6 separate regions of the Homo sapiens genome follow, and all the other regions are linked to region 3. Evidence: fine-mapped expression QTL. A gene starts in region 3. Each other region holds a variant in brackets. All regions are shown on one strand. Distances are between the middles of the regions. Region 1 overlaps ZNF438 (zinc finger protein 438). Region 2 overlaps ZNF438 (zinc finger protein 438). Region 3 holds the start of ZNF438 (zinc finger protein 438). Region 4 overlaps ZNF438 (zinc finger protein 438). Region 5 overlaps ZNF438 (zinc finger protein 438). Region 6 overlaps ZNF438 (zinc finger protein 438).

The links. PIP is the estimated chance that this variant, and not a neighbour inherited with it, causes the effect.
Region 1: its variant is fine-mapped to the expression of ZNF438 in whole blood (INTERVAL, PIP above 0.99).
Region 2: its variant is fine-mapped to the expression of ZNF438 in whole blood (TOPMed, PIP above 0.99).
Region 4: its variant is fine-mapped to the expression of ZNF438 in whole blood (TOPMed, PIP 0.98).
Region 5: its variant is fine-mapped to the expression of ZNF438 in whole blood (TOPMed, PIP above 0.99).
Region 6: its variant is fine-mapped to the expression of ZNF438 in whole blood (TOPMed, PIP above 0.99).

Annotation. Positions count from the first base shown.
Region 1 is chr10:30,871,966-30,877,340 of GRCh38, reverse strand. It overlaps ZNF438 (zinc finger protein 438), which reads left to right. Exons shown (of 7, transcript NM_001143768.2): 5 at 276-343. The coding sequence starts at 307. Among named protein-coding and RNA genes, the nearest start is that of LINC02644, 150 kb to the right of the region's middle. The variant T/A (reference allele first, on the strand shown) is at 3,053.
Region 2 is chr10:30,892,062-30,897,436 of GRCh38, reverse strand. The region is part of intron 4 of ZNF438 (zinc finger protein 438); the gene reads left to right. Among named protein-coding and RNA genes, the nearest start is that of ZNF438, 140 kb to the left of the region's middle. The variant T/C (reference allele first, on the strand shown) is at 2,241.
Region 3 is chr10:31,029,726-31,035,100 of GRCh38, reverse strand. ZNF438 (zinc finger protein 438) reads left to right here and starts at 3,236. Exons shown (of 7, transcript NM_001143768.2): 1 at 3,236-3,268. LOC105376481 (a long non-coding RNA gene) reads right to left here and starts at 2,593. Exons shown (of 3, transcript XR_001747410.3): 1 at 1-2,593. RefSeq lists a silencer at 3,015-3,574.
Region 4 is chr10:30,987,680-30,993,054 of GRCh38, reverse strand. All of the region lies in intron 1 of ZNF438 (zinc finger protein 438), which reads left to right. Among named protein-coding and RNA genes, the nearest start is that of ZNF438, 41 kb to the left of the region's middle. The variant T/AT (reference allele first, on the strand shown) is at 3,177.
Region 5 is chr10:30,863,586-30,868,960 of GRCh38, reverse strand. The region is part of intron 5 of ZNF438 (zinc finger protein 438); the gene reads left to right. Among named protein-coding and RNA genes, the nearest start is that of LINC02644, 140 kb to the right of the region's middle. The variant T/C (reference allele first, on the strand shown) is at 2,859.
Region 6 is chr10:30,841,864-30,847,238 of GRCh38, reverse strand. It overlaps ZNF438 (zinc finger protein 438), which reads left to right. Exons shown (of 7, transcript NM_001143768.2): 7 at 1,666-2,607. The coding sequence ends at 2,278. Among named protein-coding and RNA genes, the nearest start is that of LINC02644, 120 kb to the right of the region's middle. RefSeq lists an enhancer at 1-477. The variant A/G (reference allele first, on the strand shown) is at 2,587.

The DNA.
Region 1 (5,375 bases), 160 kb after region 3:
ACACATGACCCCATGAGAGCAGAAGTGTGACTAAGGCCCCTGATGTGTCATTGCATCTGTCTCTAAGCCCATTCTAGTACATTCAATAAAATCCTATTTGTAGAAAAATGAGAAGAAAATAAAAACATCAATTCTTAATAGCTCAATCCATTTCTTATTACTCATATAGTTATAAAACAAACTTTAAAAAACAGCTTAGAATTTCTATATTTAGTATGCATTAACATGCTCTCTCAATTACTTTCTAATACTTATTTGTGCTTGCTTATTTTTAGGAAAGATACTATTCAAGTCCAGTACATCATAATGCAGAATTCTGTATCAGTACCACCAAAAGATGAAGGTAAGTTAAACTGCTGAGGAAAATGGTGATGAGTCTGTTATAGTTTTAATTTGATACATTGAATGTCATTGACCTCTAATCATAAGGTAACTTATTTCCTAGAATTAAAAATAAAAATTATAATTATATATGAAAACTCATTTCTTTTGGTAAATAATTTGAGTGTATATGGATTCCTGAGTTTTAAGGACCTGTCTCCTTTATAGGCTATAGCGCCTTGAGAGCCCAGCCATCTCATTCCACCCAAAACTCACAGAGCCCTGCTTATTCACTGGCAGTTAACTGGCACTAACAGATATCAGTAAAATTAAAAAGTGTTGGCTTTATTGAAGCAAAATAACACAAGTATTTTAGTGAGTAGAAGAATATATGCATATATATTCACACACACATCTGTAGACATACACTTAGAGGATATAGAATTTGTGTATACATTTCTTTGCCTGTTTCCCCTGATATCCATTTAAAAAGAAATAGAAAAACTATTTTACTTTTTGCAATGTATAAAAAATAAAATAATGATTTTTTAACAGGCACTTCTGGACCTTCCAGAAGAACCTGTACCTCCAGATGGAGGTAGAGTCCTTTCTTCATCAAGAGTAATTAAATTACCCTCACCATAAAGGGTACACTCTAACCCCGGGGAGAAATACCAGTCTTTCCCTGCCCCATCTAGTCTCTTCCACACAGAAGAGAAGTTCTGACATGTATGAGAAAAAAGACATATCTTTAATGAGGCAAAATTAGGTTGCCTTAGTGGAACATGTAGCTTTTAGTGAAAGGAGGGAATTTGTTATGAAGGACCCTTAAATAGAGCAAACACCCTTTGATCTCTCTACCAGTGAGAAAGGTAGTATCATAACTCTTGAGCACATGGAATCTGGATTTGAAACTCAGTCCTACCACTTAACTGTAAAACTTTAGGTGTATCACTTGACCTCAGCTTCCACATCTGTAAATCTATAAAATGAAGATAATAAGTTCCACTCTATAGGATATGTGGAGACTAAAGGAAATAGCATATGTAAATCACCTAGCATATTGTTGTTTGCATAGTAGGCACTTATATGATGATAAAACTACCATTCTCAATGGCTATTATTAATATCTGGGACATCCTCATCTTTGAGACTGGTCAGTGAGATGGCCATGAGGCCGCCTCTTGCCTGGGATGCCTAATGGCCTTGGAAGGCCAAACATGCTCCAAGGGGACCCATGGGGAGTAAGCAGGAATTAGACCGCTTGGTTTGATTCTTACCCAGGAGTTGATCCGAAGAGAGAGTGAGAGTCCTTGAGACTCACACAAAATCCAGCCGGGAACACTAGGGCAAGAAAGGAGATGGGCAAACCCCAACTAGAAATAAAGAGCATGTGTTTTTCTTGAGTGTTCTCTGGTATATATCCTCTGGAAGATTTGTGCAGCACTTGGTAGCTGATGAAGGGTTTGAAATTCAGTGTCCTAGCTGGTATTACCTTTTTTTATCCAAGCAAGCAAGGAGAAGCTTAGGAGAAAAAATAATGGAACAAGTATCAGGAAAGCTGGACTCCATTCCATACCTGCCTCCAACCAGCTGTGGAACCCCAGGCAAAGTTATTTTGCCCCTGAGCCTCAGTTTTCTCATTGAAAAATCGAGAATGACTAGGTGTTCCTTTCAGGCTCTAAAAAGGTGAGTCTATGTGAGTAACTAAGCAACAAGCTGCTTGGCTCTGGCTGATACAGAGGGAGAAAGCACTCACACCTCTTGGCTGCTTTGCTTCTCATCACAGTTTGTTTTGTTCTGATGCCTACCTCTCTGGGCTATCACATAAGCTTGGATACTTCCATTGACCGGAAAGTAAGACCCCTTGGCCCTACCCAGAGCTCAAGTAAACCTCCTTACCCAGTCTTTTCTGGGACTAAAGATGCTTAAGCCCAATCCTGGAATTTGACAGAGGATATATAATAGCTTAAAAAAACCTCAATCATGTGCCTCCATTGTGATAATCATTCTACCTACAACTTTACATCCTTTATTTAATCTTCACAATAAGTTAGACGTAAACCTTATTTTACAACTTCAAGATTAGGTACTTTTTGCCAAGACCACCAACCAGTAAGTGACTGATCCAAGATTTGAACTCAGATCTATCATAAAATTTATAAAGAATATTTATATAAATTATAGAGAATATATATTTATAAAGAATATTTAATTTATAAAGATATTTCTATAAGAATTTACAATTTATAAAGAATATTTCTAATAATTTTTGATCATCTCCTTTTTCTCTCATCAAACATACTATGCTTAATTACACATATGAATGCTTAAAGCCATTTTAAACCAAAGTGAGCAGAAATTATAACTTAAATTATGGAAAATTACATCAATAAGGAAAAATAATATATGTGAATACATGTAAGTCCTATGAATTGCCCAGTTATTCATTAATTTACTCATTCATTCATTCAAATGCTTTCTGTATGTCTTAGATTAATATTAATATTTTTTAACAAAAGCATCAGATGTATTAATTATGATTCTGTTTATGATCAAATATAATTTATGGCTAGGTACAGCAGCTCCCACCTGTAATCCCAGCACTTTGGGAGGCTGAGGTGGGAGGATAACTTGAGGCCAGGAGTTAGAGACCAGCCTGGGCAACATAGCAAGACTCCATCTCTACAAAAAAATTTCAAAATTAGCTAGGCGTGATGGCTCATGCCTA[T/A]AGTCCCAGCTACTTGGAAGGCTGAGCTAGGAGGATTGCTTGAGCATAGGAGTTTGAGGCTGCAGTGAGCTATGATCATGCCATGGCATTCCAGCCTGGACAACAGAACAAGACCTTGTCTCTAAATATATATATATATATATATATATATATATATATATATATATATATATACACACACACACCCCCACACACCCACACGTAATATATTACATATATATTTGTTTAATTGCATGTACATAATTTGTGTGACATGAGAAGTTTGCTGGGCACATGCTATTTATTAATTAAATGCAGATTGATTTATTTAACAAACCATTGATGGCTAGCTATAAATTATGATACCTTTGAATTTCCAACTTATAAACACATACACACGTATTATATGCATTTCTGTATAAAATTCAGATAAGACATCACCAACAGAGTTGTGAGGCTTAAATTAAGGAAAATATGCTGTACTAACATACTGTCCCCAAACAAAGTTCATATGGTAGAAGCAGGTTTAATGATCACCAAGGTAATTCATACGAGGAACTATCAGATGCTATGAAGAATCCAAAGGTAAATCATACAGAGCCTGAGCTTTTAGGCTCTAAAATCCTGTTGGAACAGCATATGTGCATGTCCTTAATTAGAATAAAGCATGACTAATGCTGTACTAGAAGTGAGTATGACATACTTTGAAAATCAGAATGAAAGGACAGTTGGCTAAGCCAGAGATTTTGAGGCTGGTCAGGAAACAAAATGGAGGAGATGACATTTGTTCAGGATATTAACATATATGTACAAGTCAAGCAAGTGGAATTTAAGCCAGGGGTTTAAAGCTAGGAAGAGCTGGCAGCATTATTAATGGAGAAAACAAATTTGAAATTCTGGTTTCTTCTATTTAAATGTTATCTAATTTCAGATAAAGAGATTTAACATTGTACTGTCACTCTAACGATAAGTTATACTATATTACAGATTTTTCTATTATAAACTAGTGTCACCGTTATTCCTTTCTGTGTGAGAATATAATTTATAGAATTTTGAGATGTTCATGAGACTTATTTTGTTACAATTTTCTATATCATTCTTTCAGGATTTAGGGATAGAATTTAGTTTTCCATAACCTCCTTTTTTTGTCTGTTATTTTCAAATGATGAGCTAAACTGTGTTTTTCAAAAAAGAGGCATGAAAACAACATAATAAGGCCAACTATTTAGATTTGGTGAAAGAAAGACAAAGTCACCACACTGATTAAAAATGCAAGTGAATTTATTTACTTCCCATATAAGAAAACTCATACAGGTGAGCAGTATCACCAAATGATTCTCTGACAGGGACAATGTATGTGTCTTATGTGCTAAGAAGTAGTTCACTGTGATTATGCCAATTGACCATTGAAGTTTGTATCTTGGGTAGTCAGAATGAATTTTAAGTTCCTACACAGTTGGTTAATGCAAGTCTCATTGTTCATTGGTCAGGAAGGAATCTTCATTTAAGTCAAGTGAGAGTCTGTTTTACTGGAGTCAATTCTTTTTTTTTTTTTTTTTTGAGACAGAGTCTCACTCTGTCACCCAGGCTGGAGTGCAGTGGTGCGATCTTGGCTCACTGCAAGCTCCGCCTCCCAGGTTCATGCCATTCTCCTGCCTCAGCCTCCCAAGTAGCTGGGACTACAGGTGCCTGCCCCCACCCCCGGCTAATTTTTTGTATTTTTAGTCAAGACGGGGTTTCACCATGTTAGCCAGGTTGGTCTCAATCTCCTGACCTCGTGATCTGTCCGCCTCGGCCTCCCAAAGTGCTGGGATTACAGGTGTCAGCCACTGCGCCTGACCTCTTTTTTTTTTTTTTTTTTTTTTTTTTTTTTTTTTTTTTTTTGAGACAGAGTCTTGTTCTGTCACCCAGGCTAGAGTGCAGTGGTGCAATCTCGGCTCACTGCAATCTCCACCTCCCGGGTTCAAGTGATTCTTCTGCCTCAGCCTCCCGAATAGCTGGGACTACAGGAGCGCACCACCACACGTGGCTAATTTTTGTATTTTTAGTAGAGAGGGGATTTTACCATGTTGGCCAGACTGATCTTGAATTTAACCCCCTGGCTTAAATTCCACTTGCTTGACTTGTACCTTGTAATCCGCCCACCTCAGCCTCCCAAGGTGCTGGGATTACAGGCCTGAGCCACCGTGCCTGGCCGAGTCTCTCAATTCTTAGTCACTTGTCAGCCTTACAGTTAAGTTTGCCATTTCCTAGACAAGTCTTCTGCAAGTAGAAAAGTTTTCTTATACAGTTCTTCTACCACTTTTCTCAACTCTGTCATAACATTTGTGTTATTTAAAGGTAG
Region 2 (5,375 bases), 140 kb after region 3:
TGCTAATACTAAGATGGCCTTCTGAACAAGATTACCTGAAACTCCCTGCCTTTCTAATAAACTCACCAGAGAACATGGGGTGATAGTATTGGGGGGAATATAGAAAGAAGTTAACCAGATCCAATCTTCAGAGTGGCTGTGTTGATATCCTATGGCCTGAAGAGCCCTAGGCTAGTACTTCCCTTTTTATAGGCAGTATTTACTTTTGTATAAAATATGTTCCTCAAAAAACTACCCAGATATACAGTGTGTAAAAGTAAAACAAACAAAAAGACATATGCTAAGAAGATATTCCTTTACCAGAGTACTAGTAAAACATTATACAATTCAAAAAGAATATGTCATTCTTTCTGACATAGATGTATGTCTAGTATGAATATTGTATACTTTGTAAATATTCTTTAGTTTTATCATTTTTCTTTACAGTTGAGCACATGCCTGGCTTAAGTCAAGTATGCTTCCAGTAAAAGTTAAAAGACTTGCCACATAAAACACCCTGAGTGATTGCCATTTTTGCCTAAACTTAATATTGTTTACAAGGCCTATGCTTCATGTCAGTACTATGATCACATTTACTTTTTTTATTGTGGTAAAAAACACATAACTTAAAATTTACCTTCTTAACCCTTTTTAAGTGTACATTTCAGTAGTGTTAATTACATTCACATTGTCGTGCAGCCAAACTCTAGAATTTTTCATCTTGTAAAACTGGAACCGTATACCCATCAAACAACTCCCAATTTCTCCCTGGTTTCTTCTCTTCCGGCCTCCCCTCCTCCCCACAACCCCATATCCCCCAGAAACCACTATTCTGCTGTCTATCTTTGAATTTAATTACTCTAGATACCTGATATATATGGAATCATACAATGTTTGCCCTTTTCTGACGGGCTTATTTCATTTAACATAGTCTCCTCAAGGTTCATTCATATTATAGCATGTGTCAGAATTTCCTTTCTTTTTAAAGTTGAATAATCCATTGTATGTATATATCACATTTTGTTGATCCATCTATCTGTCAATGGGCAGTTGAGTTGTTTCACTTCTTGGCTACTATGAAAAATGCTGCTATGAACATGGATGTGCATATATCTCTTTGAGATCTTGCTTTCAGTTTTTTGTTTTTTTTTTTTTTTTTTTTGAGATGGAGTCTCACTCAGTTGCCCAGGCTGGAGTGCCGTGGCGCGGTCTCGGCTCACTGCAAGCTCTGCCTCCCAGGTTCATGCCGTTCTCCTGCCTCAGCCTCCCAAGTATCTGGGACTACAGGTGCCCGTCACTATGCCCAGCTAATTTTTTTGTATTTTTAGTAGAGATGGGGTTTCACCGTGTTAGCCAGGATGGTCTTGATCTGACATGATCTGCCCCTCTCGGCCTCCCAAAGTACTGGGATTACAGGCGTGAGGCACCGTGCCTGGCCTCAGTTCTTTTTGACATTCACACAGATGTGGAATTGCTAGACCATATGGTAATTCTATTTTTAATTTTTTGAGGTACTGCTATACAGTATTCCATAGTTGCTGCACCATTTTACATTTCCAATGGTAAATAAGAGTTTCAATTCCTCCATATCCTCACCAACATTTGTTATTTTCTCAGTTTTGTTTTTTAAATAGTAGCCATCCTAATGAGTGTGAGGTGTTATTTCATTGTGGTTTTGATTTGCATTTTTCTAATTAGTGATCATCTTTTAATATGCTTGTTGGCCATTTGTACATCATCTTTAGAGAAATGTCTATACAAATGCTTCGCTCTGTTTAAGTTGGGTTATTTGGGTTTTGTTGAGTCATAGGAGTTCTTTATATATTCTGGATATTAATCCCTTATCAGATAATTATTTGCAAATATTTTCTTTCATTCTATAAGTTGCCTTTTCACTCTGTTGATTGTATCTGTTGATACATGGAAGTTTTAAATTTTGGTATAGTCCAGTTTATCTATTTTTACCTTTGCTGCCTATGTTTTTGGTGTCATCTCAGTCACATTTACTTTCCATCTTTTCATCTCCAAACACCCAAACTAATTTTTCTAAAGAACAAAATGTAATGAAATATTTAAATAATTATAAAATAACTACTGCAAGACAAAGATGACTACTCCTGAAAGTGAACTCTTGGCTAGCACCATCATGCCCTAACTCGAAGTGTTGCTTCATCCACTAATGTGAAAATGTACACATTTGGAGTACAAAATGCAGTTGGAGGAGTGGATCTAGAAATAGATTGTGGGGACATGGGCAAATA[T/C]AGGAAAACAAAGGAAGAGGAAAGCACACCTAGTTGTATCCTTTTAATTAGGATCCTTGAGTATCCACAAGTAAACTATTTAACAAATCCTTGCAAGAAAAAAATGGTCCTCTAGGGCCTTCTGCGTTCTGATTTTTCTCATCTTTCCTATGTGTTAATGCCTCATAGTCTGCTAACACCTCTAAACAGAGACGAGTTAGAAATTTTTGTTGTAAGGTTAACTTTCAAATTTAGAGAAATAAAGATGCTCTTCAAATATTTAACTTTATCCCAACCTAAATTTTAATAAACTATTGAAGTTGACTAGCAACATGGCCATTTATACCAATTAGTAGTTATAGACTATCAAGACTGTCAGCCGTGCACACAAAAGTACTATAAGCATCTTTTCTAACTGCAAGAGTGTATGAACCAGTGCTTGAATGGTTTTCTGAGATATTTAAAGAAACTGGAATTTAAGTGATTTTTTTTCTTCAAATGCTCTTTCTCCTTGTATAATAATGTTGCCATTGTTCCTTTTTTCTTCCTACTTTTTCTTTCTTTTGTGATTGCTACTTACTCATCTTTCTCTTGATCGTTAGTTCTACACAGATGTTGATAGTTCTCCTTGCCTAATTTTTCTTCCCCACCCACCCAGACTCATTATTCACTGTCCTCAGCCCTGATCGCTGTCCTCCAGCATTTACAAGGATTAAAATGAGCCTGCCAGAGTCTGTGTGGCTATGATTCTCGTTTCAGGGCACTAGAGGACACACACATTAATACTTCCCAGGTGCTGGGTCAGCGGCTTCCTCTCCCACCTGGTGCTCAGGCCAGGTGTTGGTAAGACGGTAGGAACCTGAACTGGCAGGAAATTATTAAGCCTAGATGTTGCCTCTGGACTGTCTAGTCCTCCAAACACCCGAAGCAGTTTGATTCTTAAAAACTTACTCAGAAAAAGAAGCTACTGAGATATTTTCCCTTTTTATTTTCTTTTGGGTTTAAATAAATAGTAATGGTTATTCTACCCATGTGAAGTTTTTACTTCTTAAATAAACCCCTGTAACAAGTAGAGCATCTTCTGCAAAGAGAGTCCATGGATGCTTATTAATACATTAAATGTTCCAGTTAAGCTCTAGGTTAATGAAAATTCAAGTTTTTGAGTGGTTACTTTGTTCTAGTCCTCTGATGTACCATTTTGCTGTGTGCAACAGTACAGTATTATTTGAGTGGTTTTATTCATTAACAAAATGTACCAAAATAAATTTAGCTAGGGTCACAGTGTTTAATTTAATAGTATTACAATAATAACTACCATAATTAGTTTCAGATTTGCCTTCCTTCCCAGAGGATAAGACTTTTTTAGTTTTGAATGCGTTCTGAAGGTATGATAATGACAGCAAAATTAATGTCATGACCTTTATAGCCTGTTTATAGTTTTTCCATGTTGTACCCTAAAGGATTTAGGGAGCAGTGTACATCTAAAATAAACCACTTAGTATGGACAAGTTAAAAATTGGGTTAATTGGGTTCACATATCCTCAGCTGGTAGCACCTCAGTCAAGACACCATTTCATCTTACATAAAGGAGCATGATTTTTACACTATAAAATCATCTTAAAACTGTACCTGTAATGTTTTAAAAAGAAAAACATTTTAAAAGGCTACTTTTTCAAATATGTAACAATGTTTTCTCTAATTATGTTATGTGGTTTGACTTTTTCAATTAGGAAATCAAGTTGTTTTCATAGCAAGAAAATGTTGATACAAACTAATGTGTCATGCTGCATGAACACTAATGCTCACTTCCTTTTGGTGATGTTGGGCAGCAGCACTGTCTCTTGCAACGGACTCCTTTTCCCATTTGTAGTTTGTTGGTGGGACTTCCCATAAACAATCACCCTTCTAAGTCCTGGAGATGGGAAACTTGGTTTTCATTGTTTATATATTTCAGTAAAATACAGTGTTTGCATATTCAGCTAAAGTTGAGACAATTACATAGGCATGTTAGAATCCTTAAACGTTTTGAGTATTTGATTGAAAAATTCCTATGGCAATTTTTGCAAGTGATGGTTTTGAGGCACTTTCATGCGTTGTTAGATAAATCAGTGCAACTTCTTTGAAGGACAGTTTGGCAAAATCTAGAAAAATATTAAGTCAACCCAGAAATTTCTTACTGTGACTTCCTGCAGATAGACTTCCCACGTGTTAGCAAAGATGTACATGCAAGGGTGCACACTGTATGTAGCTTTGTAAGAGCAGAAGGCTAAGAACAATCTAATTGTCAACCAGTGGGTTAAAAAATAATGGTTCCACACAATCAAATACTATGCAGTCTTTAAAAAGAATGAAGATGCTTTATAAGTGCTGAGATAGCAAACTCTCAAAAATATATTAAGTGAAAAAAGAACAGCATGTATAATCTGCTTCAGTATGGAAATACGGACAGGGGACAGAGCTTATTTCTATGTGTTAGTTTCTGTAAACATAAAACCATTTCTGAAAGGGTGCCCAGAAAGGTGCAAAGAGCTGTTGAGCCGTTGCCTCTGAGGAGGGGAATTGGGGGAATAGAATGAGAAGGAGACTTATTTTTCAATTTATTCTCTTTTTTTTAGTGCTTGAACTTTTTTTTTTTGGACTGGTATTCATATTTTTAATCAATATACAAACAGAATGTTAAAAAAAAGTTTTTGAAGACTGTAGCAATGTAAGTAAATTCTTAATATATAAATGCAATGGTCTTCCCTTATTTGTGATTTCTCTTCTCATTTCAGTTACCTGAGATACAGTACAATAAGATAGAGTTTTGATAGAGACCACATTCACATAACCTTTGTATGTTGTTACATATGTGTTCACATTCACACATTATATGTTGTTACAATTGTTGTATTTTCTTATTAGTTATTGTTAATTTCTTCCTGTGCCTAATTTATAAATTAAACTTCATCATAGGTATGTATGTATAGGAAAAAATACAGTATATATAGGGTTTCGTACTATCCACAGTTTTAGACATCCACTGGGGATCTTGGAATGTATCCCCAGCAAAAATGGTGGAAATGTGATCATTTCAAAAGCAGTGAATTAAATCCAAACTGATCAAAGCCCTGCCAGCCAGATTGATTGAGGAAAACAAAATAAAGAACAATTTCA
Region 3 (5,375 bases):
AGAATACACACATGTGGCTGAAAGTTTCCCCTAATTTGTGTTGGGAAAAAAATACCCTTATTACATGTGATACAATCTGATATTTTGTATTTTGGATTCTGATTAGTGTTTTTCTGAGTAGCTACCCTTTAACCGATCACAAAATCAACTTACTGGGTCATGATGACCACCTTAAAAAATCAAATAAAAGCAGTCATGCAAAGATGGGATGGAAAACAGTGAAGAAGATACCCATACACTGTGGTCAGTATTTTAGAGCTAAGTCCATATTTTGGACTTCCTAAGTCCCTCTGTTTCTTGCATAATTTGTGCCTGGTTGTATGAAACTTGAGACAGATTAGTGGTTATGGCTGTGGGTTCTGAAGTATGAAGTCTGGAATCTTGACTGTGTTACTCAGCAGCTGTGTGACATGGGCACTTAACCTACTTACCTTGTGTTTAAAATGGGGATAGTAACAGTTCTTATCTAGTTGCAAGAATTCAAGGAAATAATGCAATGCTTGGCACAGAATCAATACTCAGGAAATATTAGGAATTATATTTCTTTCACTTTTATTTTCCCCATACATTAAGTACTCTGTTTTGTCTTAATTCAGCTTTTCTTAGCTTGCTAAGCAGGACCAAGGGAAGAGATGTGTGTATTGACATAGAGGGCTCTGGAAGCCAGATTGCTATGGGCAGCAGATATCAAAGAGAAAGAATCACAAGGGGGAACTGAAAGCCCAAGGGCCATAGTGGAGGGCCTCAGTGCTTCCAGTGCTAAACCTCCAAGGTCCAGGGTTTTATTTTCTTTAAAAAAGCAGATCCTCTCTTTAATAACAACACTTTTGGCCCTAGCTTCTCACTTCCTGTCTAGGTCAAATTCCAGTTTGTTACAGAAAGTTGACTGAACGTGAGTGGTATTTTCCCACAAATTTCTACTTGACATTCCTTGAGACTGTGATCCTTGCTTGGGTACCTTTACTGTTGGCCATCTTTTGTTCACTGCGTTTACTTTTTTCCTGCATCTAGCAAAACAACGACTTTTTTTTTTGAATACCTGAGATTTCAAGAGAAAGTATACTGAACAATACGATGAGAAGACTATATTCTACAATGCCATCTTTCAGAGGCAAAAGTATCTATAGTAAAAACATTTGATACATTTGGTGTATGCTTCTTACCCATTTCCACTCCAAAAAATAACAGATGACATGTACCTGTGAAACACTCCCATAAGGTATACCTAGAAACTCACTTAAAAAAATTACGATTTTTAGAAATGATATATATAAAACATTTTATAAGCATGTAAACTATTAACAATTTAAAGGTTTCTTAAAATTGTTTTGCAAGGAAAAACATAAATATCACTGTTTTAAAAATATGCAGGACTTTAAAAAATGTTAATTTTTCTATACCTCTGCTCTACAGAAAAACCTTATTGTTACAATTATGGTACAGCCTTTACAAATTTCTTTTACATCATTTGATAATAACTAATATTCAGATAAAATATACAAATATTTTTTCAAATCAGAACATTTAAAAACACTGACGTAGATTTTTCTGGAATAATAAACGTTTTTATTTTTAACCAGCTCAGATCTCGAATTAAAGCCTAATATTCCCATCATCACTCTTTCCTGTAAAAATAAGACAGCACTTTCAATGAGAGTGGAAATAAACCATTGTTTCAGGTTTTACTTACAACTGGAGCTGCCTTGCAAAATCCCTGCCCTGGCCATCTGCCGTGGTTCCAAATAAGTTTGTAAAAGTGAATCTTGCCATTTTCAATACTTCCTCCTTTGGGTCTATTTATTCCGAAGTCTGTTTTTCTCATTCTTTTAATTTTTTTCCCCCCAAGACGGATTTGTCTGAGACACTTTTTTGCCATAACATTTGTTTTTTCTGCTTACGAGAGTGTAAGAATTCCACAAGCCAAATGTTAATATTTTGTTGTCAGTTCTTTAAGCCTTCATTTTTTCCGTCTATCGAGCCCTTTTTTTTAACCAGAACTCATTGCTTCTGAGAGTATAAAAGAGCAAAGAGGCCGGGCGCGGCGGCTCACACCTGTAATCCCAGCACCTTGAGAGGCCGAGGCGGGCGGATCACGAGGTCAAGAGATGGAGACCATCCTGGCCAACATGGTGAAACCCTGTCTCTACTAAAACATAAAAATTAGCCGGCTGTGGTGGCGCGCGCCTGTAATCCCAGCTACTCAGGAGGCTGAGGCAAGAAAATCGTTTGAACCCGGGAGGCAGGGGGTACTGTGAGTTGAGATCGCGCCACTGCACTCCAGCCTGGGAGACAGAGAAACACTCTGTCTCAAAAAAAAAAAAAAAAAAAAGTGGGGAGCAGAGAGCCGGACTTGGACACGGGAAGGTATCGTGACATGAGTGGGTCGGGGGCTGGAAAGTTTGCCCAGGCGAAGAAGTGAACATGTTTATCCGGATCACCGTTTGTTAAATGAACAGCAACCCATAGGTAGCTTCACCGAGCCGAAACGGGAAAGGCGGCAGGCAAGGGAGAAGCTAAAATCTGCAAGAAACGGGCTGGGCTGGAGGCGGCGCCAGGGCAAGAAGGGCAGGTGGGGGCCCGCGGGAGCCGGGAGCCAGGGGCGGGAGCCGGAAGGGCGGGACCCAGGGGCAAGGCCTAAGTGGGCGTGGGAGGGGCATAGTCAAGAGATGGGCGGGGACTGCTCGGGGTCTGGGCGGAGTCTAGCGGGAGCCGCGTCGAGCCGGGGAGGAGCGAGGGACCCTGGGAGAGCTGTCTTTTCAGGGCTGAGGACCCGCCAGCACCTGATGGAGAGCAAATGGCTGTTTCCACACGTGGAGAACTTTTAACGAACACGTGAGGAAGGCGGGCAATGTCTGTGGAAAAACTACCTCACAACCCAGGCGTCTTACTCCAGCCCCCAGGGCGACAGCTTGTTTACAGTATTTCTGAAGGTCTCCGTCCCCTTTTGTCGGCCCCTCCTCCTCCTCTAACCCCGACTTCAGGCTTTGAGTGAGGCTTTGGTAGAGCAGTCGCCGCCGCAGGCGCCCCGGTCGGCGAAGCCCACAGGCATGCGGGCGCAGAGGCCGTCTGCGCCTGCGCGGGGTGTCTGCTACGGGGAGGTGCGTGGAGCTCGAGGGCGTGGAGCTCGGGGGCGTGTCTCCCGCCGCGGCGCCGGGGCGGGGCGAGGGCGGAGCCTGGGGGCCCAGCGGCCCGCGCCCCGTGGCTTGACCTCCCCGACTGCTGGGCCCGTGACGTCACCCCGCTGTGACGCGCACGCTGTAGGAAAACTGTAAGTTTACGAGGATTCCTGCAGCTCCTAGGGCTTGCGGGGCCCGCTGGCAGCTGGCAGTCCCGGCGGTGGTGGTGGCTCTGGGGGCGTCAGTTCCTTGGGGAGTCGCCGATTGTGGCGAAGGGACAGGTGTCTGCTCAGAGTGGCAGCGCGCCCTGCTGGGCGGTAGGGACCTGGGGTGCGGGAGGCGAGGCCGCGCCCCGTGGGGCCGGGCCAGCACCTTTTCCCCTGGGGCGGGGCGCGTCTCCGAGCCTGGGAGCGAGGCCTTAGAAGGGGCGGAAAGTCCAAATGGAGAGTCCCTTTTTTTCTTCCGTGATAAAGGGACTTAGATTCCTTTTCTTCCCCCTCTCAGCCTTGGAGTTTGACATGTTAAGTAGGGGATGGAAGCTTCCTCTCAGAGAATAGGAATCCTATGTCCTGGCCGTTGGGATCCCACAAGTGACCAAGTCATCGTGGACACATTTATAAGATAACCAGTTGCTGCCTCAGTTTTCTTTTTTGTGTAAAAGGGAGGTACAGCAGCCTCTGGCCTCCCTAATGGTTGTTCCCACAGCACTAGGAACACGTGAGATAACACAAGTGTGTAAATTTGCTAGGAGAAAGCTTATACACAGACACTTGGTTATTCTGAGGAATGTGGTAGCCACTGGCTATTTGACCAGGAATCTTGTAGAAGGGGAACTTTTTCACTGTTTTGCCTCCCCCCGACAACCTTCCCTCCATCTGATTCTATACCACACTGGAGCCTGTTGGGTGATCGAACTGTTGTCACTAAACTTGATAGAATGGGGATCCCAAGAAATAACAGGTATCGTTAGCACGGTACTCTTGGCAATTACAATGCCCCCGTTGTCTGGGTTTTGCAGAGGAAGCTTTCAGTGTGCTGGAACTAGCACATTATAGACAACACAGACTCACTGAGTTTTAAGGATTGCTGTATCGATTTGGAATATCCAATCATCGTATCTGACTGCTTGAATATTTTGGTCAAGGGGTACTACATTATCGATTAGTTATTACTAGACTATAATGCCTCTCAAACTCCGGGACTAGTAGTCTTCAGGAACTTTGAAGGGAAGAATACTGTGCACACTTCAGGGTGTATTTATACAGGAGCTCGAGAGTTCACATTTCTGTAAATTCATTTCAGGAGTGTGATATCTTTTCATCCAGGTAGGAAGAGCCTTTGAATCAGAAAGCAGGGCTTCTAATTTTTGTTCTATTCGTTAACTAGCTTCGTGTCCAAGGACAAGTCACGCAAACTTGGAACTTTGTTTTTCTTATCTAAAATGAGAGCCGATGGTTTATCTGTTTGTTGGTTTTTCCAGGATCAAATGAGATCACGAGAGTGCAAATGAAAGGCTAAGTGTGCTATTGTTATTAGGAGATTCGCATTGGTCCCCTAGCCTGGATGAGATGTGAGTCAGAAATCTCTGGAAATAGAGCAGCAAAGAAGACAGCCTCCAACCTAGCAGGGCTCATATTGCAGTGGGAAATAGACAACGAACAATACGTGCATAATGTAATTTCAGGTAGTCATAAGTGCAGTGAAGGGAAGGAAGAAAGGAGGACAGTGGGGGAACAGGGAAGGTTGTTTTTGGTGGGATCTGTCAGGAAAAGCCATTCAAAGGCAGGGACACTTGAAGTGTGAGGGAAAGAGCCTGAGGTAAGAACATTTCAGAGAGGAATAATTAATAGCAATGAACACTTAAAAAAAGTAGAGCTTACCATATGTAAGGCACTATTCTGAACACTAAATTAAATTTTTACAAGTCTTTTGATGTAACCTAGTATCTCCCTTTCATAGATGAGGCAACTGACACACAGAAAGGTTAAGAATTTGCCAAAGTTGCACAGCTAAAACGTGGTAGAGACTATTTGAACGTGGGCAGTCTGACTTCAGAGTCCAGGCTCCAGGTGACTGTATTTTCGGCCTCACAGCAGGAACAGCACAGGACAATGCTCTGAGGTGGTCCAGACACAGTGAGAGTGTTTAGAGCACAGCCGGGAACGGGGAAAGTAGTGGCCAATGATGGTCAAGGGCCAGGCAGGCCGTGGGGTCCCTTGTAGGCTGTGGTGAAGTAAAGATGTTGTTCTAACTGTGATG
Region 4 (5,375 bases), 42 kb after region 3:
CATTTGATTATAAATTCTGTCTTTGTCATCCCTTTGCTCCCAAATCTCACTGTAAGTAGCAAAAAGTAACCACACAGTATCTTGAATGTTTTGCTGCTAGAAATTTCTTCCACTCGATATGCTAGTTCATCACTCTCAAGTCCAGCATTCCACAAACCCCTAGGGCATGGACATAGCCTTGAGGCGTGTCAGGCTGTTTGCTGCTTTGTGACAAGTGTGGCCTTTATTCCAAGTTCTAGTACCTTGCTCCTCATTTCCATCTGAGGCCTCTTCAGAATGACCTTTACATATTTCTATCAACATTCTGGTCATGAGCACTTAAGTAATCTCTAAGAAGATTCAGGCTGGGCACGGTGGCTCACGCCTGTAATCCCTGCACTGTGGGAGGCCAAGGCAGGCAGATCACCTGAGGTTTGGTGTTTGAGACCAGCCTGGCCAACATGGCAGAACCCCTCCTCTAATAAAAATACAAAAATTAGTGGGGCTTGGTGGCGCATGCCTGTAATCCCAGCTACTTGGGAGGCTGAGGCAGGAGAATCACTTGAACCTGGAAGGTAGAGGTTGCAGTGAGCTGAGATTGCACCATTGCACTCCAACTTGGGCGACAGAGCAAGACTGTCTTAAAAAAAAAAAAAAAAGAAGATTCAGAGTTTCTCTAGTCATCTTCAGAACCTTCACCAGAATCACCCTTAATGCTCCATTTATGGCAATGCAGGTTTTTTTCTATCCAGCTCCTCCACAGTCTTCCAGCTTCTACCCGTTACCCAGTTCCAAAGCCACTTCTTCATTTTCAGATATTATAGCAAAAATCCTACGTCTTGGTACCAATTTTATGTCTCAGTCTGTTTCTGTTGCTATAACAGAATACCAAAAAATAAATTTATTTCTTACAGTGTATAGGCTGGGAAGTCCAAGAGTAAGGTACTAACATCTGGCAAGGGTCTTGCAGATGGCAAGAAGTTTGTTTTGCCCCATGTTCAGCCATAGATTAGTAGCTTGGATTATTCATTCCCAGTCACTCCTGAGCGAAGCAAGCCTTGAGCATGCCCACAGTCTAGTAAACTGCCAGGGATACTTTCATATTAAAGCCTGGCTTCCTAGGAGTTGATCTTGGGGCAGAAGAGCTTATTGTTCAGCCACTGTTTGATCAGAGGTTATACTTCAGCCCCCGAGTGACAGTGAAGCTTCCTTTTTTAATTGATCTGTGTGGCTTGTGCCCATATCAAGCTCTGATTGCTCAAGTGGATGCAGCCTCCCACTTGGGCACAGCCTTCCTGACCTCTGTGTTTACTGTGAGCTGGCTGTCTCTTTTTCTAGTTCTGTTAAACTTCTGATAGTCCTAATTTGTTGGTTGCTGCTTGTATCCTGGGGCCATGAGCACCTTCTTAACTATGTCAATTCCCTCAGACAGAGCAGAGGAACTTTTTGTCCTTAAGGGCTGCTGTCTCCAGTCTGCATCTCCCCACAGGTAGAACCTTGCACCACTGCACAGAAACTGGGGGCAGGAATAGTGACTCACTTCTTCCAGAGTGACACCCCTGCTATAAAAGGGTGTTGGGAGCATGGGCATTAGCCACTTGTCTTCTTGGCTTGCCCCTATGGATATGGAACCTTTGCCCCACCAGCAAGTTGATCCAGGAGTGATAGAAGCCCAGTGTTTTCAGCCTGCTGCACCTAGAGTAGAACTTTTGCCCCACAAATGAGGGCTGGCTAGAGTAAGGAAGCCCTGGCCCTCTCAGCTGTGCCTCTACAGAATAGAAACTCTACCATAGAGGGCTAGGGAAAATGAACAGTGCCAGTGGCTTGTTCTACCAGGGTGAAAATGCAGCCCCAGCTTGGGAGCTGAGGGGAAAAGGAGCCCCCATATTCTTGACCGGACCTTCTGGACTAGAGCTCTCGAGTAAGTAAAACAGACTAAGACATAAGTCAGAGCTTGGAGGTGCAGGGGAGGTAAGGTGGGAGCAGGTCATGGCTCAAATGCCACTGACAGGCTCTTACCAAGATTTAGAATATTTTCTTGAATGCATGTTTCTCCATTTATTATATACTCTTCAAACAATTTCCAGTTTAAGTGGTTGTTTTAAACAATTTTTTTTCCAGTTAAATTGTTTTTGTTGGGGAGAAATTCTATGGCACTCTTCATTCCTCCATTCTGGAAGTTGTCTCTTGGTTTTGCTCATTAAAAAAAAAAAGATATATCTTCAATCTCTCTTAATCTATACAGGTTACTTTATAGATTCTTAATCTTTACGTTCCTTCTCCATCCCTTTAAGTTTCATACAGTTTACCTGTTGAAGAACCTGGGAGGTTTGATCTGTAGAATTTCCCACATTCTGGATTTTAATGTGTGCGTATTTGTGGTGTAGATCCACACGTTTCTCTGACCTCTATAATTCCTATAAATTGGCAGCTGTCCATGAACTGGATCAGACTCAGATTTGATTCCTTTGGCAGTTCTATACATAGAATTTAATGAAGTTTAGGATACCTCTGAATCACCTGGTGGGCTTGTAATAATAAAATGCAGATTACTGGGTCCTATGCCCAAACCTTCTGATTCAGGAGATTGGAGGTTGGACCTGAGGGTTTGTATTTCTGGCAAGTATCTGAGTGAGGCTGAGGCTGCTGGTCTGGATAACCTACTGTCAATGTTTGGTTGCATCTTTTTTTGTGATCTTAGCAGCCATTTATGCATATTATTTGTATCTATTTGTTCATTAAGGTTTGAAAAATAGTAACATTCTAATTCTTTTTATTTTTTTCATTTATTCATTGGAATATTTTTATAAAGAGATACATGTCCTTATTTCTTATTCAGTTACCCAGAGTTCTCAAAAGACAGGTAACATAAATTCTTGATTTTTTCCCTTTGATATATTTCTTAAGATAATGAATTGGTTCTCTATCATCTCTTAAAGGTGACCAGTTTTTTAAGAATATTATTATGAACTTTTAGAATTTAACGTATTAGTTAATTCATTTCAAGTATTACCATCACTGAAGCTCAAATTATTCCATCTTTGGCCAATGGAAGCCTCTTAAACTTAGCTCCTGAGTCCTAGATTCAGCTATTTCTCTTAGAAGCCCTACTGTTTAAGGGGTGATCATGTTTTCTCTCAGCCCTTTCTGTAGACAGAGATCAGAAGTATGTGCACATATTGAAGATAAAATAAAAA[T/AT]ATTTCATAAGTTTATATTGGTGTTTCCAATTCAAACTTGAGACTATGGTGGAGATGATAGTGTGTTTAAATCTTCTTTCTGTATCTCTTTCCTCTGTTTTCAAGGATATGAGTGCTTATAGAACTGGAAAGTCCTACAATTATGTATTTTCATCCTATAGTGCACACACAACAGTCTCAGAATGACAACACCACAATACTACTCAAAACATTAAAATCCATATTTTTGCATACATTCTCGCCCCCTTAATCACATTTAGGACTGGAGATGTCTTCTGAGACTTTAGTTTATTCAGCAACCATTTAGAGCATCTTCTCTGTCTCACACTCACTGCTAGAAAGGGGATACAAAGAGATGTAAGATATGTCCCTGTTCTCTGAAAGCTAAGGGTCAGGGTTATTGGGTTATGTATCATTCTGGTATAGGAAGATGTGGCCATAGAATCTGGGATTCTGTTCTTCTTTAAAAGAAGTTAATGCTAATGTTAATTCTTCTTTACTTGCATGTTTCTTAAAATAAAACCCTTTCTCTCTACTCTTATCAGGGAGCAGCTTCCTTTTGGTGGAGCTCCTTAAATACTTTCTAATCTCCCTTACGTAGTATATTATTAGTCAGGGTTCTCCAGAGAAACAGAGAGAGAACAAGAGAAAGATATAGAGTTTATTTTAAGGAATTGGCTCACAGGATTTTGGGAGTTGGCAAATCAAACATGTAGAATACAGCAGCAGGCTATATACTTAAGTAAGAGTTGGTAATGGTCTTGAGTGTAAAAATTGCAAAATAGGCTAGTAGGCTGGAAACTCAGCATTTCTATGTTACCATCTTGATGTAGACTTGCCTCTTTTTCAGGTAACTTTTATCTTAGCTGTTGAGGCCTTCATCTGATTGAATAAGGCCCACCACAGTATGGAGTCTGCTTTATTTCAAGTCAACTAATTATAAATGTTAATTACATCCACAGAGACCTTCACACAACATCTAGATTAGTGTTATACCAAACAGCTGGCCATCATAACCTATCCAAAGTGACTCATAAAATTAACTGTCACATCTAGGTTAACTGTTTATTGCCAAAATTGATATTCTTTCTAAAAAACTGTAAACTTATATAATTTTATTGCTTGACTGACAAATTGGTTTCATCATATTGGCGAACCTATAAAATAGTCCTATTAAGAAATTATTTTAAAAATAAAGTTATTTCTAAAACATATTAACATATAGCTATATTCATTAAAGCAAAACTGTTTTAACATTAAAAATAGCGTAAATATAATTCTCAGTAAAAGCTTACATTATTTAGTTTCTTAGCTATAATTTGTACTAATATATTTATTAGGTACAATAATTATAATCTTGTTATCTCTCTCTTTCTCTGGAGAACCCTGACTAATAATATACTACATAAGGGAGATTAGAAAGTACTAAGGAGCTCCACAGAATACAGCTCTCTGTATTTTCCTGGAAAAAAAATTTTAAAAATACGGTTGTATTTTATCTTTAATTGCTTCATAAAATTGTAGTCTTTTTCAGGTTGCATTTTGTGATTGCTACATTTGAAATTATTGATTTTTTTCAAGTTACTGTTTTCTATATAAATTGTGATTTTTAAATTTGAGAATGTAATCTCTATGTCGATAATGAGGTACCTGGTAAGTTCAAAGCAAATTCTATTAAATTTTATTTTGTAATAGTTTAATATGTAAATATTCTAGCACATACATTTTCAAAGCTACTATTAAAAAAAACAGTAAACTCGATTTACAGCACCTTTATTCAATAAAATTTTTATGACAAACTTGTCAAATAAATTGTGTCTATTATGGAAATCTTTTAAACATCTTAACCAAATTTAGATGCTGCTAAATTGTAGGCATTCTCAAGTTCATTTTATTCTAGTACATAATATAAACTTATTTAAGTAAAAAAGTAAGTTCGCCATAAAAATTAAATCTTGAATAAAAGATTTCTGTCTTAGTTTGGGCTGCTCTCTCAAAATATGACATACTGGGTGGCTTAAACAACAATTCATTTCTCCCGGTTCGGAAGGCTGGAAAGTCAAAGATCAAGGCACCAGCAGATCAGTTTCTGGTGAGGGCCTGCTTCTTGGTTTGCAGACCTGGTTTGATCTTCTCATTATGTCCTCACATGGCCCTTCCTGGGTGTGTGCACTTGGATGGGGGGTGGTGGGTGGGGAG
Region 5 (5,375 bases), 170 kb after region 3:
TTTCATAGCATCACATCTCACTTTGTCAGAACCCCTGCTGCCTTTATATCATTAACATAAATGCAGGTGCAAATAGCATTTATGTACTTTGATAGAAAGCAGTTGGAGACATTTCACTGTGGGACACAACACTTCCAGATTGTGTACATCTGTTCAAATAATGTATCCAGCCCCAGTGACATGAACACAAGGATGGAAACATCTGCCCCTGAGACCATTTGCAATATAGCAGATGCTTGCATCTTTATTTATGCAGATGGTTAGTGTGATGGCTTGAGCAGGGATAAAAGCAAAGTAGTTTGACAGGGGTATTTAGGATTTTATGCAAGCCAAAAATAAAGGATAGGCATTTTCTGTTTTTAAAAATCTAATAGCAATAGGAATAGAAATTCATAAATCTAGTAATGCTTTTTAATAGAGTAAACATATTGTTCTTGTCTTTAAATTAATGGGCAACAAAATCCTAAAAACATTTATAGAATTCCAGCATCTAACTTGTATTAATTAGGAAGAGCAACTTATGATTACTTTTGTTTGGATAAAATAATTTTAAATGACTTTGAATACTTTTTGTTTAAAAAAATCCTTCAGGCCGGGCACGGTGGTTCACACCTGTAATCCCAGCACTTTGGGAGGCTGAGGCGGGCGGATCACCTGCGGTCAGGAGTTCAAAACCAGCCTATCCAACATAGTGAAACCCCATCTCTACTAAAAATGCAAAACATTAGCTGGGTGGGGTGGCGGGCACCTGTAATCCCAGCTACTTGGGAGGCTGAGGCAAAAGAATTGCTTGAACTGGGGAGACGGAAGTTGCAGTGAGTTGAGATCGTGCCATTGCACTCCAGCCTGGGCAACAAAAGCGAAACTCCGTCTCAAAAAAAAAAAAATTCTTTAAAAACACTGCTCTGTTTTTTGAAAAGATTATATACTACCAAGAGTATCTTGTGATGATATTTCTTAAAATTGGGGGAAAAATATAAATGTCATTTGAATATAACTTATACTCCATAAATATAAATTTAAGTAAGATAAGTTTTTGAAACATTATATAAGATTTTTGTCAAGCATTTTATTTGGTTCATATTCTAATGTTGACAGCTAGTGATATTTTAATTATAATTAATATTTGTGTTAGGATGACTTACCTTTTAATACTTTATTATCAAAACTCTCTCCTATTGATCTGCCATGTTATATTCTCAAGGAAACAAAGGTGAAGGGAATAAAACCTAACAACAAAAAGTAAAACATTTCTAGATGTGATTTTCTATTCTCATTCACACAAACCTGCCCACTCGTACTCATCAACACACACAATTATAGAATCTCAAAAGACATAGGAAGTTAGATTTCATCTAATTCAGTTGTTCTCAGACTTTGTAGCTTCAGGACCCTTTACACTCTCAAAAATTATTGAGGACTCTAAAGAGCATTTGCTTGTATGGGTTGTATCTGTCAATATTTACCATATTGGGTGATTATAAAAAATATTGAAATATTTATGTCATTTTGAAATAACAGCTCATTACATCTTAACAAAAATAACCTAGTTTAACGAAATTGACTATACTATAAAACTAATGACAAAAACCACAATTACTTTTGCACCAACCTAAATATTTTTCTAAAGCAAAAAAAATAATGAGAAGACTGGCATTGATTTACATTTTCTGCAAATATCTTTAAATTCTGGCTTCATTGAAGATAGTTTGAGTCTCATATCTAGTCCTGCATTCAGTCAGTTGTGATGTTGTATATGTTGACATATTTTTTTAAAAGCCAGCTTTCCAGTAGTCAGAAAGGAAGGGGATATTTTGGTAGGCTTTTCAGATAATCATGGATATTTTTCTTTGATACTATGCCAAAGTTTGTCAGATGGAAACTTCTTTCAGTTTAATTGTACTGTGAAATTTGAAACCCTGTCCATGTACTTTTGTATTCTATTAGATTTTGAGTCTCATACTTAAGTGATTCTTTTATCCACGCATGTAACGTTAAACTAAACTGGTCATTTAGAAAACACTAGTTAAGTGAGTTAAGCAAATCTTCCATATACTTCATTGTGCGATATTTTAAAAATCATTCATTAACGTAAGCACCAGTTTTCGTTTTTGGTTTTTTTTTTTTGAGACAGAGTCTCGCTCTGTCGCTCAGGCTGGAGTGCAGTGGCGCGATCTCGGCTCACTGCAAGCTCCACCTCCCAGGTTCATGCCATTCTCCTGCCTCAGCCTCCCGAGTAGCTGGGACTACAGGTGCCTGTCACCACGCTCGGCTAATTTTTTGTATTTTTAGTAGAGGAGGGGTTTCACCGTGTTAGCCAGGATGGTCTCGATCTCCTGACCTCGTGATCTGCCTTCCTTGGCCTCCCAAAGTGCTGGGATTACAGGCGTGAGCCACCGCGCCTGACCCATAAGCACCAGTTTTACCTGAAAAGTAACTACTGGGAAACTTCAAGTTCCTGGTGGTGAATTCAAATTTTCCAAAATTCCAATTGCCACTTGAAAGAAAATGACTTTTATCATTGGCAACAAATACTGTTAGAAGTTCTTTCTTGTAATGCCAAGTTCCATTCATTCACTTTTGAGAAAATGTCTGCCAGATACCCAAGTCTTAATATGTTCATTCAACATATTTCAGCATATGTCTGTCAGCCATTTTATTCAAGTAAAAATTGTATTCCATGAAAAAAGTAGCCAGGTCAGCTTTACGGCTGAATTGAGTGCTTGTCCTCAGAACAACAGTCCTATTTCCATATGCAGCAGACATGTACTCTGACTGTGAACGATTTCATCACAGAATATTAAAAAGGCATGTACTCAAGGATCAAAATTTTATAAAACTAAAATTTTGTACTGCTT[T/C]TTTGTTGTTCCACTGTGAGAGTACCACAGTGAAGAATATGACTGCTTGAACAGTTTGTGGGCACTACCTTACTTGGCTAAGTTGCTAGAGAAGTTTTACCCCATCAGCGCAACAAGTGCAAATGTCGACACAAGGCAAATGACATCTTGATATGAGTATGAAAAGAGTATTCGGGACCCTTCCTGAGGTTCTGCAAACCCTACTTTGAGAAACACTAATCTAATCTAATCCCCTCTTGCTAAAGAGAGGAAACTACGGCCAGGAAGGCCGAAGGATTATTATCTTGCTCAAATTCATTCCAGCAGTATAATAAATAGAAACACCAAAGCCAGACGTCTACTCTCTATCATACACGAAATGCAGTTTGTCTTGTTTTCTCTGAGGAACTCCTCCCCCAGCCTTCCGCAAAAAGAAAATTCCTCAGATCCAAATCATTACACCATAGCACTGATATATTATCAAGTTTAGTAAAGGAGCAGGACTTGCCACATAAGGAATTTAGAAATTGTTTTAGCATTTTAGACTTTTCTTTCAGTCCTAGTGTTCTTTAGTGTCATCAGTTTTAGAAGAAGGTGGTGTAAGATTAAGAAGTATCTAAGAAATGTATATTATTTTTAAAATTATAAAAGACCTTTGTCATTTTTTTTCTTCATTTTTACTCATTGAAGAATTACTTTGTCGCTGCTTAAAAGTGTCATTAAATGTATTGTGTAATTGTTGCTTCAGAAAAGTCAGATTCTGGTGTGAGCCTGATTTGGTCACCAGAAGTTCTGTTAAAAGAAGGCCATAGATACAGTGCTGTAGGGTATTGCGCATTGCTATGTGTGAGTTCATTAACTACCTCTCCAGTGACCATGCTGTAGATGTCTCTTAGAAGAAAGACATGTTCTCTCTCTCCTAACAGTTGCACTGTGATTGGAAAAAGGTTGTTCAAAAAGATCTTTCTTTTCTCAACATTGAGATGGATTATGTGGCACTCACCGGTCACTGGAAGAGACTGACATGTAAACAGATAAATTGCTAAACAACTTAGTTCTAAGTTCAGCGTGTTGGAATGGAGGGAGAACAGCTTTGGTGCCAGACAGTCCTGGGTTAAAATCCAAGTCTCAATACCTGCTTTGTGATCTTGCAAGAAGTGTTGTTTTCACATCTATGGACTGGAGGTGTTAATACCAAGAATTGGTGAAGGACTTGAGATAGTAGATTAAGCATTCAGTCTAACTTCTGACTGAGGGGCATTTTAGTTGTTCAAAATAGAACTTCAGGATTCTAGGGGTTCGAGGGAAGAATAGAAATAGATGAGTAGAGGCGGTGTATATGTACACATCTACCATAGATTGTCTCAGGAAGAAAAGGAAGGAGATGGGGCCTAACGACTCTTTCTTGTTGCTGTTGTTTTTCTGTTTTTGTGTTCAGCAGTAGCATAGCAGAAGGAAGCCATGTCAATATGGTTGAGAGTTAATAGTTCGTTCCTTCAGTAAAAATTATGTTGTACAACTGCTAGCTGCTGATCTGGAGACTGAGACCCTGTCAGTAACAAAACAAACCCCTGCTCTTTTGGAGCTCACATTTTAGCGAGGAGACAGATAATGTAATATCATCGTGAAGGTAAGTACCTCGAAGGACAGTGAAGCAGAAAAAGAAAATAGCAAGTGATCACATGGAGCTGAGCAGCTCCTTTTAGACAGGATGGTCACAGGCCAGCCTCCCTGAGAGCTGGGGAGCTCACCAATGGTGCAGTATCCCCGAGGCACAAGGGGCCTGGAAGGAAGGGTAGCCTCCAGACCAGGGTTGGGAATACTCCATTTCCTTATTTTCAGATGCACCTTTTTGTACATTTTAATATATCAGGATTTGAGCATTGTATATTTAGAGTTATAGTACTTCTCCTTTCCCCCATCACAGAAAAGGTTTTTATAAATTTATTTGTGTGGCATAATCAAAGACAAAAAGGGAGTTTACAAATAAAAGGGACAGTGAATGAGTTCCCACATAATAGCCTCTCTTTTTTCCACGAAGTCAATGTCAAAAAACATTGGCAAGAGAGAGATGGCCCTGGGGATAGGGCAGGGGTGGGACAGAGGGAGAGTGCCTCAGAAGAGCAGAGGAAGGAATGTGGGCCGCCAAGAGTCTCTTAGGGACAAGTAAATAGACTGTGGAATCGGTTTTGAACTAGAAACTTTAAACTTAGAACACTGTCCAGCGTTCACAATGGTTGGATTTCTCCAGCACCAAATAACAGGCGGTGGAAGTGGAGAGCACAAGGTGGGGCCAGCTAGGCAAGGTTCTGTAGGAAGACAGCAAGGGGGCGAACCTACAATATGAGGGGAGTGCGTGTGGATGCTCAGCCAGGAGGCCGGCTCTGGAATGGGAGGATCTACCTAAGGAGACCACTCACAGGCACACATAGCCTCGGGGCAAGGAGAAGCAGTGGGCTGTGTCATCACTCCATCTCCAGGGAGGTGGGAAAGTTAACTCTGACATACTCTTCATCTGTGGATGAGAATAGATATTCC
Region 6 (5,375 bases), 190 kb after region 3:
CAGAAAAGCACCACAAGTTCCCACTCCAGTCCACATGACTGGCAACCTGGCCCCCAGGCTTCAGGGCTTCTCTGGCTTGAAGGTGGGGCTTCACCGGGGACCTCCCCTTTTCTGCCCAGGAGCTTCTTTGCTCCCTGCTTCTGTTTATGGCACCCAGGCTGTTCATGCTGAGGGGGCACCTGCAGGCTGGCACCGAGCTGTCCTGAGCACCCCTTCCTCAGCCTCCCTTCCATGCTTATTGGCACCCAAAGTCTGGAGCAGGCCAATGGGGTAGGAGGTGGGCATATCAGCACTGCCTCAAGCGTGTGCACACCCAACCAGGTTACAGCAGAGCCCAGGCTCAGCCCCAGCCTTGCTTTGAGATTGGAGCAGGTGCTGACAGCAGGGAGAAGCCAGGCAGCAGGAGCAGGTGCTTCTTGAGCCCGTGGGGGGAAAGGGGCCTTCCTGGACCCCTGAGAGTGCAGAGATGCCTGGATCTGCAGCCACAGCAGGGTAGCTACAGTGATGCCTGGGAGGGCAGGAGCGCTCCTGCCTGCTCCCAGCTTCCAAGAGCACAGGGGTGCCTGGGTCACAGCTGCAGCTTGGGCAGCTGCAGGCAGTTGTGCCTGGTAAGCTCCCACACCGTCAACTTGGAAAGGGCAGGGCTCGTGCTTGTCCCCAGCTCCCACTGGCTCCATGAAGTGTGGCACCACCCCTGGCCCAGCTCTGCCTCAGGGCCCCTCTCTACCCACTCCTGCATGCCCTAGTGTGCTGTTTTCCCCTGCCAGCAGGTGACTCAGCCTGGCCCCATCGCAGTGGCTCTCATGGCGGCAGGTTTCAGGGACTGCCCACCTCCTCTCCATGTTTTCCCAGCAGCAACAGCAGGCAAGGTGCAGGTGGTGCAGTGGCCCTGGCCAACCCTGCACAAATGAACCTGACACTCTCAGGACTAGCCCCACAAGTCCCGGCTGCACCTTCAGCTGGGTGCTCACTGGCTCCTTTCTGAATATGAAATCTTCTCCTCTTCCCCAAATGAAAACAGACGCTCTTGCCAAATGTAGTTTGGACATTGTACCTAAAAATCAAAATCTAACTCTAGGAAAAGAAGGAAGAAGTGAGGTTTCATGGTTCATTAGTGAAAGGCACAGAGGTCTTAAAGGGGACAGAAATGTCTAAGAAAAAGGAGAAACTCTAGAAAAGCAAGGAAGAAATAGGGTAGGCACCCTTTATTTTTACTGAACATGACAGAGTGAGCCAAAATTGAATAGAAGGTATTGGTGCTCAAGGTTAGGGAGAGCCACAGTGGGTAGGGTGGGACCGTTACCTTCAACAGAACCGAGGGTGTTCCCGTGCCCTTCACGCGCTCTTACGTGACTCTTCCACGTGATTGCTCCTGTCCCTGTGGTAACCAAAGACGAGTTAGCTCGCCTGGGACAGATGCGTGAAGAGGACTGTTGACTAAATGAACCCTGGTAGCTGGAGAAATGTGTGGCCACAAGCAGGAGTGACAATTAGTATTCACCACGGTCCTTGCAGAAGGTCTTCCCAGGTGCTCTCTGTTTACCCCAGCCCTTGTCTTTCTCGTCAGTGTTATGTTTTAGATCCCTGAAGGCTGACAGCTGAGAGGAAAGATTCCAATTGCATTTTTCCATGAAATCTTATCTTCATTATTATTGGCCTTTTCAGGGAAAACAAGTCCAACCTGGAAGAAGACTTCCTTCTAAACCAGGCAGACGAAGTCAAATTACAAATCAAATGTGGTCGTTGTCAGATTACTGCTCAGTCTTTTGCGGAAATAAAATTTCATTTACTTGATGTTCATGGAGAGGAAATTGAGGGCAGGCTACAAGAAGGGACCTTCCCAGGAAGCAAGGGGACTCAGGAAGAGTTGGTGCAGCACGCTAGCCCCGACTGGAAAAGGCATCCTGAGAGAGGGAAGCCGGAGAAGGTTCATTCCTCCTCCGAGGAATCACATGCATGTCCAAGACTGAAAAGGCAGCTCCACCTTCATCAGAATGGCGTGGAAATGCTCATGGAAAATGAAGGACCCCAGTCAGGAACCAACAAGCCAAGGGAAACCTGCCAGGGCCCTGAGTGTCCTGGCCTCCACACGTTTCTCTTGTGGTCCCATTCAGGCTTTAACTGCCTGCTTTGTGCAGAGATGCTGGGACGGAAAGAGGACCTCCTCCACCACTGGAAGCACCAGCATAACTGTGAGGACCCTTCCAAACTGTGGGCTATTTTAAATACGGTCTCCAACCAGGGAGTGATCGAACTTTCCAGTGAAGCTGAGAAATGAGACCCCAAGGCAGCCTGGGGTTAAGGAGAGAGCTCTGCCGCCACCTTCCTTCAGAGCTTCGTGCTTTATGGTGGTGCTTAGTCACAAAGATCAAACAACAGGATTGGTGTGAGTGAACAGAAATGATTTTTGTACATGGTTTTATTTTCTTAACGAAATAAAATATAAGCTCTCGAAGCATATTTTTCTAACTATATGCAGTCTTATTTTAAAATACGTACTGATTCTTAATATCTTAGACTTTCAGAATAAATAAAAAGATCAAAATTTGAAGATTGAAATTTAGCAGAATATAGGCTGTTCTTCAA[A/G]TACAGCTCTCAGTGAAAACATGCATGTGTCCTTCCTTTTGTTCAGATGTTTTCTGCTTATATAGATTGACAAATGTCAAAAATGTCCAGGCAGCAAAACCCTTTTAATCTCAACCATAGTATCAAGTTAGATGGTAAATGCTGATATTTATTAAATTCTCTGGTTTATTTGAATATGATATAGAGCAGTATTTTAATAAGATTGTCATCTACAATAATTTAAAATCCATGTTTTCAGGACTCAGATTTTTGTTTCTTGTAATTTTGCTATTTTCTTAAATGCACATTTCATTGAAGATTAGTTGTTGGCAAGTCTTATAGCTGTAGTGTTCCATATCAAAATAATTTTTTAAAAAATTTAGTACTTCAGCTAATAAAAAGTCTACTTGCTTGGTAAAAAGTTATTTTCAAGTAGTCTTTGGGACCAGAAAATTTACAACCTGGAAAATGAACTAGATAGTTCAGTCCAGATGTGTAGGGGTCTCAACTGCTTTCCCTCACTCCCAAGTAACTTCAGAGGGTTGTCGCTAGCTGATCAATTTTAGATGGAACTGTACTTTTCAAGCCCAGTTCTCTTTGAAAGTCAGAAGTAAATGATTGCCTCTTAAATTCCTGGGAAATTACCTCGAATCAGTAAAGTTGTCATTTGAAGCTTCTGGCCATCCTGGCTGCAAAATCATTTTCTTAGAAAAGTGGAGTTTCAGCACTCATCCTACTGATAATCTCAGTCTTGGATGAAAGCACCATACGTGTGGCCAGCCCTGTTTGCTGAAACTCAGCCCAGGTATGGTCATAATATTTTGTGCTCAAGGAAGTTACCTAAACAGAGAAAGAACTAAATTCTAATTGATAAGCTGATGGATCTTACATCTTTTTTTAATGTCTGATTTTAAAAGCCAGTGTTTGTAGACATGATTTGCCTCAAATAGTACAAGAGAAAACTTAATCTTTGTCTTTTTGCAAATAGTTTTGTAAATTTGGGAATAAGAGAGTAGGGATAGAAATATCTGAAAGATTGTGTTGTGGTTTGTCTGTTGATCACGCTTTACCCAGTTTCAAATAGGGAATATCAGACCTCCACTGTTTGATAGTTTTAGAACTTCTTGGTTAATAATGAAGTCGCTTTACCATTCAAACCAGTTCCCAGTTTGTTTTTTGAAATATTGGTCTCAAAGACATTACCAAATGACTTCTACAAAGAATACTACTTGAATTCAAACCATGAAACTTGAATTCAAACTATGAAATAATTCATAGACTGCTCAATCCTCAGATGCTAAGTCGTATTTTAGAAACACTGGCCGGTTGGCCAAAGCAGAGTGGAGTGTGTGGAGACAAAGGTGTGGGACAGAATACACCCACCCAGCACTCGGGGAAAGTCTCAAGTCCCCTAGATTGTGCAGGAGCCCACCTGTGGCCTTTATTTCCCCACATATTCTTACAGCAAGGCCATAGGCAGTCTCCAGAAAGGAGTACAGTGAGGAATGGGGAAAAGAGCAAAGGTATGGAGAAGATATGATTGGCTCATGATTCAGCACTCTGGCTGGATCCCCATTTCAGAGCAGCTGCATTTCCGAGCATTTCAGAGCAGCAGCTCCAATGTACTAACTAAATTTAGATGACTCAACAGAGCACTGATCCATAGGGAGAGGGAGGGCGCAGGTGGGGAGCCATGAAAAAGTGACACTCATCTTTAAGAAAATTCTTTTTGTTTTTTTGGAGTGCTGCTCAGGCTGGAGTGCAGTGGCACGATCTCGGCTCACTGCAAGCTCCACCTGCCGGGTTCACGCCATTCTCCTGCCTCAGCCTCCCGAGTAGCTGGGACTACAGGCACCCGCCACCATGCCCGGCTAATTTCCTTTTTGTGTGTGTGTGTGTGTGTATTTTTAGTAGAGACGGGGTTTCACCATGTTATCCAGGATGGTCTCGATCTCCTGACCTCGTGATCTGCCCGTCTCGGCCTCCCAAAGTGCTGGGATTACAGGCGTGAGCCACTGCACCCAGCCGAAAATTCTTTTTTTAAGATAAGGAAGGTTAGTGGGGCATAGGACCCTCCCCGGATGTCAGTGTGTATGGGTTCATTTGTGGTACAGTGTTACAGTTCTCAGCTTTTGAAAACTCCCCTGCCTTACAATGCAGACAGCCCCAGTGCCACCCAAAATAAGGAGTTTCTGGCCCTTACTGGTAGTGCTTCATTGAGAATGGTGGGAAGAGGGCCTCCTACTGGGGAGGCAGGAAGATGAGAGAGAGTATTTAGCTAAAGTTACTTTGGGAACAGCTCAGAGCCTTTCTTGGGTGTGGAGATGTTACTGGAACAGTCCCAACCTGTATACTTAGGCCAGAGGTGGTGTGGTGTGCAACAAAGTGCTCCAATACTTACTGTGTGTGGCCTCGAGAGAGTGTCCCCTCTTAGGCTCCATTCTCTCCTCTGTGAAATGGGGGTGACAATCCTATGTCAAGGCACTGTTGTGAAGAGTAAAAGAGACACACACGAAATGCCTGGCACCTGTGGGCCATGTGATAACTGGTGGCTGGTATTTATTAGGCTTTTGGCCAGACTTGGGAGAAGAGGTATTTTGTACCATATAAAAGATTGTAAAAAGCTTGAGTAGACAGATCTTAAGTGCCGAATTCAAGGATGGAAACTACTAGGAACCACAGAAGTTGGCATTTTTGCAGGAAATGCATTTTATTTTTATTTTATATATTTTTTTCGAGTTGGAGTCTTGCTCTGTCATCCAGGCTGGAGTGCAGTGGCATGATCTTGGCTCACTGCAACCTCCGCTTCC